Regions from separate parts of the Homo sapiens genome. Here region 2 is linked to region 1. Evidence: fine-mapped expression QTL. A gene starts in region 1. The other region holds a variant in brackets. All regions are shown on one strand. Distances are between the middles of the regions.

What was found. PIP is the estimated chance that this variant, and not a neighbour inherited with it, causes the effect. A credible set is the group of variants that fine-mapping cannot tell apart.
Region 2: its variant is the best candidate, but not a certain one, in a credible set for the expression of ARRDC4 in whole blood (INTERVAL, PIP 0.60).

Annotation. Positions count from the first base shown.
Region 1 is chr15:97,959,200-97,962,102 of GRCh38, reverse strand. It overlaps ARRDC4 (arrestin domain containing 4), which reads right to left and starts at 1,400. Exons shown (of 8, transcript NM_183376.3): 1 at 935-1,400. The coding sequence starts at 1,241.
Region 2 is chr15:98,161,213-98,164,115 of GRCh38, reverse strand. No RefSeq gene overlaps it. Among named protein-coding and RNA genes, the nearest start is that of LINC01582, 74 kb to the right of the region's middle. The variant C/T (reference allele first, on the strand shown) is at 1,702.

The DNA of each region.
Region 1 (2,903 bases):
TTGATAGATAAAAGCTCATGGCAAAAACGTAAAAGTTTAAACTAGTTTCCATCCATGAAATGAGTAAGACTCATGGTTCTTAGTATTTTCGTGACTAAAGGGATCCAATTTTGGTATCTAATATTAATGAAACGCTCATGTAGTGTGTCCCCACATGGGTACTTCTGGAAAAGTCTACACTGTGAACTGGACTTCACCAAAGTGAGCAGGAAGGGAAATCCCGACACGCCCTGATGCTCTTGTCTCTAAAGGCATTTTGAGTGGAGAGAAGTGGGGGAGAGGGGAAGAAGCGGGTAGGAGGGGAGGAGGAGGATGGGGAGGAAGAGGATGCGGAGGAAACAGCAGCAGTATCAGGTAGAGGTACAACTCTTACTAAGTTGCCCTGCTCCCCAGAAGAGGGAAACCAAGCATGATGATCAAGTCTGGAAAACACTTCCTTTGAACTCCTACCCCTCAGAAACTACTTCCCTATTCCCCAAACCAAATTTCTGCTAATTCATCATGAACCAAGAACGTATGCAGGATAGGGAGGAGTGGAGGCCATAGGACACGGGCACCGCAGAATGGAACCTCATAGCCGCCGGTTCCACCGTCCCTTTCTTGGACCAGAAGGAACAGGACCTAGATTTCTGGATCCCCCATTGTCCAATCACAGGTTCCCACCGCACCCAATGGCCCCCTCCCGTCGCGGTCCTAGAAAATCCCGAGCCACTGGTCCCGGTCAGGCCCGGCGGGCCAGGGGCGGGGCGCCAGGAAGAGCTGCGCACCCAGGACTTGCGGTCTCTCCTTACCCGCGAGGGTAGGCCGGACCCCACCCCCGGAAGCCCGCCCTGATCTCACCTGCCAGGTGGGCATCCCGAGGGTGCGCGGCCTCCCAGCCCCTCCCCGGCCCCGCAGCCTGGCGGGGGAACCCCAGGCGCTCGCCTGCGCTTACCGGCCGGGGGCTCCCGCAGGCTGAGGCGCACGTTCAGGTACTCCACCTCCGAGAAGACAGCCAGGGCCGCGGTGCTGGCCGAGGCGCGGGGGCAGGTGCTCGGGCCCCAGGCGGCGGTGGCGCGCCCCTGGGCCTCCAGGCGCAGCGCGCGCAGGGCCACCGGCTCGGACGCCTCCAGCAGCACGTGCCCGGCCACTGTCTCGCCGCTGGAATAGCAGCCCTTGCGCTCGTCCTCGAACACCAGACCCAGGCTCTTCACGCGGCCCTCGGCACCCACGGCCGCCGCGCACCCAGCCTCCCCGCCCATCCCGCCGGGCGACTCTTTCCTGCCCCTGAGGTCGGCAGAGGCCCGGAGCCGGGGTCGCGAGCACAGCGGCGCCGCTGTCACAGGCGCTCGCGGCAGGGTAAGGCCGCCGCGGCAGCCGTGCGGTACCCGATGGGGCACCGGCTCGCCGAGAGGCCTGTCGCTTTAACAAACCCAGTTGGGCCTGGAAAAGGGCCGGGACAGCCCACCCCCGGCGGGCGGCCATTGGTCAGCTGCGAGCCCTGCTTCTTGCTGATTTGTTGTAGATGGTCACTGAGTCATTTCATTGGCGCTCCCACGCGTGGGTGGGCGCAGGAAGGCCGTGCGTGATCAGGGAGTGTTGGCCAATCGGGAGGCTCCGGCGTGCACGTGCACAGGCCGTTTACTGGCTGAGGCCAGGCACAGTCCTGGAGCCCTGGCCAATAGTGAGGCGGTGCGCCCATGTGGACAGACAGTGGGAAACAGTATCTGTCAGGGAGGGGGCGGAACAGGGTTATCTCCGGCTCTCAGCGTGTCAGCCGTTCCCATAGTTACGAACGGGGGCGGGGTTTCTAGCAGCGTAAGGACTTTGCAGGAGCCACTGGGTTCTCGCTAAAGCATGAAGTTGTGGCTGTAACTGGCTTGTGTTTATGATTACATCTGCAATACTCGAGGGGAAATAGATGCTCTGGGAAACGGAACTCGGCAATATTTCCTTTTGAGATCTTGGGGGCCGGCCGCATCGGGACTTTAATGAATGACTTGGAATCTTCTAACCTCCAGGTTTTTGATCACCGCCTCTCCCAGGTTTCAGAATTCCCAGCCCATGTAAGAGCCATAGATAAGAAAAATGAGGGTTGTGGTTTTAAACCTGATACATCCCCTAAGGAGTTCTCCTCCTAAGCTCCGCAGTGTCGCTGTTAGGAATAGCTGGAACTCTGATTCTTCCTGCTGTAAATAAGATCATGAATCACATTGTTTTTGAACAACATCTGTCACTCAAGTTTCTGCCCCACCCGAAAGTTTCCTGACATCATTGTCATATCCACAGAAATTTCCAATTGCCTTGATGACTTGTTCCTCACGCCCAAGTTTCCTCCGGCTTGTCCTGCTACATTTTCCTTTTCAACCTTCCATTTTTTCTCTGTTCTGTTTTTTACCATCTTGCATAGCTGTCATTAGCTGGTCATCATTTTCTTAACTTTTAAGTTGTCCCCTTATCGACATGCCACGTTTGTGAGCTGTTATGTATTGATTAATCTCACAATGAAATTTAGCAATTTTCCTAAAAAAAAAACCTCAAAGTAAAGGTTGCTCTACTACCCTCGTTGAGTTTAGATTATTAATGTGGAGATTTAGTAAAGTTTTATAAGTTCAAAATTTCCTTATTACCTCTCAGAGAAAGTGGAAAAGTCACAAATTAGGCTCTGTGTAAAGTTCAGAAATAGTTGCTATTCTCTGACCATTTCGTCTAGAATAGCTCCCTACATGATCTTACTCTGCCTACTTTTTTTTTTATATAACACAACGTGACCTTACGTGTTTATCTATGTATTATCCATCCCACTCATTTGAAACACAGAACTTGTTCTCATTCGTTTTTTGACCTCTAGGGCCTAACACAGATCTTAGCATACAGTAAGTGCTCAATAAATGTTGAGTGATTGAATGATGTATCCTAACCGT
Region 2 (2,903 bases), 200 kb before region 1:
AAGTCAGAGGGCTAATGAGTAGCAGAAAAAGGACACGAATTCAGGGTTCTTACACTTTAAATGTTCTAATTTTGGATTATGTAGAGGAAACGATGTCTGCTTTTACTTGTCCCAGTAGAGCTGTGTTATTATAATCTCTCTGCTTCGGGTAAGCATTCGGGGTGTCCCAGTTGATGGCAGTGGCAGCCTGTCTGGAGCGGCCGCTTTGAAGATGCGGCTTGCAGTGGAGGGAGGCGTGGCCAGGGCTGCAGTTCCATGCAGCCAGCAGGAGCTGGGAACAGGCGGGAGCCCTGGCCCCTTCTGAGTTGGTGGGGTGGGAACCCAGCCCTCACAGGCACAACTGCAACAGAGAGCCGAGGCTGCAGACCCAGGCATCCCTGTGCTCTTGAGCCGGGGAAGCCTCCCTGTCTTCGCAGGCTCAGAAGTGCCTGCTCCCGCTTCCTGGCTTCTCCCTGCTCCTGGCGCCCACTCCTATTTCCGAGTAAAGTTGAGGCTGAGCCTGGGCACTATCGCCACTCGGCCAGGTTTGCGTGCGCTTGGGGCGGTGCTGACACACCAGCCCTATGCTACTTTGGCTCCATTTGGACTTTGGGTGCAATCGAGCACGGGAGGGAGGCCACAGGGGCTGAGGGTGGCTTGGTGGGGCCTGCAGGAGCTCCTCCGCAGGAACAGCCTGGGCACCATGGACAACATGATTGATGGTGGCAGGAGGCAGACAGGCTTCTCAGCAGAAAGGGGCAGGTCCCGGTGAAGCACCACTTTCAAGCCAGGGATGGCCTGAAGTATGGGGGCCCAGCTGTCAGTTCTGGGTGAAGTCTGCGGCCCAGAGTGAGAACTTATGGTGCTTTTTCTGGCCTGCCCGTGGCTGCCCATGGGCCAATCGGCATGCACTTCTTCCCTTCTGAAGCCCTTAAAAATCCTGGACTCGGCCGGGCGCGGTGGCTCACGCCTGTAATCCCAGCACTTTGGGAGGCCGAGGCGGGTGGATCATGAGGTCAGGAGATCGAGACCATCCTGGCTAACAAGGTGAAACCCCGTCTCTACTAAAAATACAAAAAATTAGCCGGGCGCGGTGGCGGGCGCCTGTAGTCCCAGCTACTCGGGAGGCTGAGGCAGGAGAATGGCGTGAACCCGGGAAGCGGAGCTTGCAGTGAGCCGAGATTGCGCCACTGCAGTCCGCAGTCCGGCCTGGGCGACAGAGCGAGACTCCGTCTCAAAAAAAAAAAAAAAAAAAAAAAAAAAAAATCCTGGACTCAGCCAGACTCACAGACACATCAGGACTAGCAGCTGTGGAAAGGAGCTACCCACTCCAGGTCTCCTCCACTCATTCGGACAAGCTGCCTGCAGAAAGGAGCTACCCACTCCAGGTCTCCTCCACTCATTCGGACAACCTGCCTGCAGAAAGGAGCTACCCACTCCAGGTCTCCTGAGAGCTGTTCTGTTGCTCAATGAAGCTCCTCTACGCCTTGCTCACCCTCCAGTTATCCATATTCCTCATTCTTCCTGGACTCTAGACCAGATCTTGGGACCTGCTGAATGGCAGGACTGAAAGAACTGTAGCACAAACAGGGCTGAAACACATCCCCTGCTCGCCAGGTTGCAGGCAATGAGGAGAAGTACTGCAGCTTTTTGGGGAGCCCAGCCCTAGGGGTTCCCTGACCCAGGGCTGACACCCTCTTTGGGGCTCTGTGGTTCCTGGCA[C/T]CTCCAAGCTTCTGGGAACCACTACATTCCCTCATGCCTGCAGTGGAAGCCACCTGCAGTACACCTGGTCCAGTCACAGCCTTGCAAGGAGCTGGTGCCTGTGTTGGTGCCTGGAGCTGCCTGCCCCGCTGTAGCTGGCATGCCTGGCTGTATGCAGTGGCTGGACCTCATGCTTGCTCACATACCTGTTGCCACTTCATGCCTGGCTCACCCTTGGCAGGTATGGGATCCAGGCTGGTAGCACAAGCCAAGTGCAGCCTGCAGGGACAAGTGGGCAGAATGAATGCAGTGGGCCCAGGCAAACTCAGGAAAGGTACCACCAGCCACATAGGTTTCCACCTGGAAAAGCAACACCCTAAGGATCCTGTGACACAGTAACTTGCCCAAGGTCAAGCCCCGGAATGTACAATGTCCAGGATTAGAACTTCTGTCTTTCCAAACCCAATTCCTATTCTTGCCCCACTGCAATGCTCTAAGTCTGAGCAAGCCATTTAATAAAAGACGGCCTTTTGAAAAAAAGTTCAAAGAAATCAGGGGCCTAGTGGAAGCCGGGATTGTTCGATGATGACTTTCAATTTTACCTGCTCCTCTCATGGCCCAAGCCTTTGGTGAGTCAAAGATGTCAGCTCTGCTTGATCAGTGGCCCTAAGTGCAACGTATTGGTTCACAAATGTAGCTCCTGGGGGTCTGAGGCAGAAGCTGATGAGATCCGTGTGTAGCCCAGTTGGTGTGCTGGGAAATCTTGTTGTTTCCAGCTCTAAAGAACAGAGAGACCTGGAGAAAATACTTTACCTGACTGCCACCTTTTTTTTTTTCAAACCTGTAAATTCAGGGGTCTAGGCTAGAGGGTCTTTAAGGCTCTCTTTTGCTTGGAGACTATTTGTAGCATTACAGTCGTGTGCCAAATAGTGATGTTTCCATCAACGACAGACTACATTTACAATGGTGGTCCCACAAGATTTAATACTGTATGCTATGCTTAGATACACAAATACCACGAGTTACAATTGCCCATAGTATTTAGTGCAGTAACATGCTCTACAGGTTTGTAGCCTAGGAGCAATAGGTCATACCATACATCCCAGGTGTGTAGTAGGCTCTACCACCTAGCTTTGTGTAAGTGCACTCTATAATATTTGCACAACAGTGAAATCACTGAAGGCCACATTTTCCAGAATGTATCCCCGTTGTTAAGTGATGTG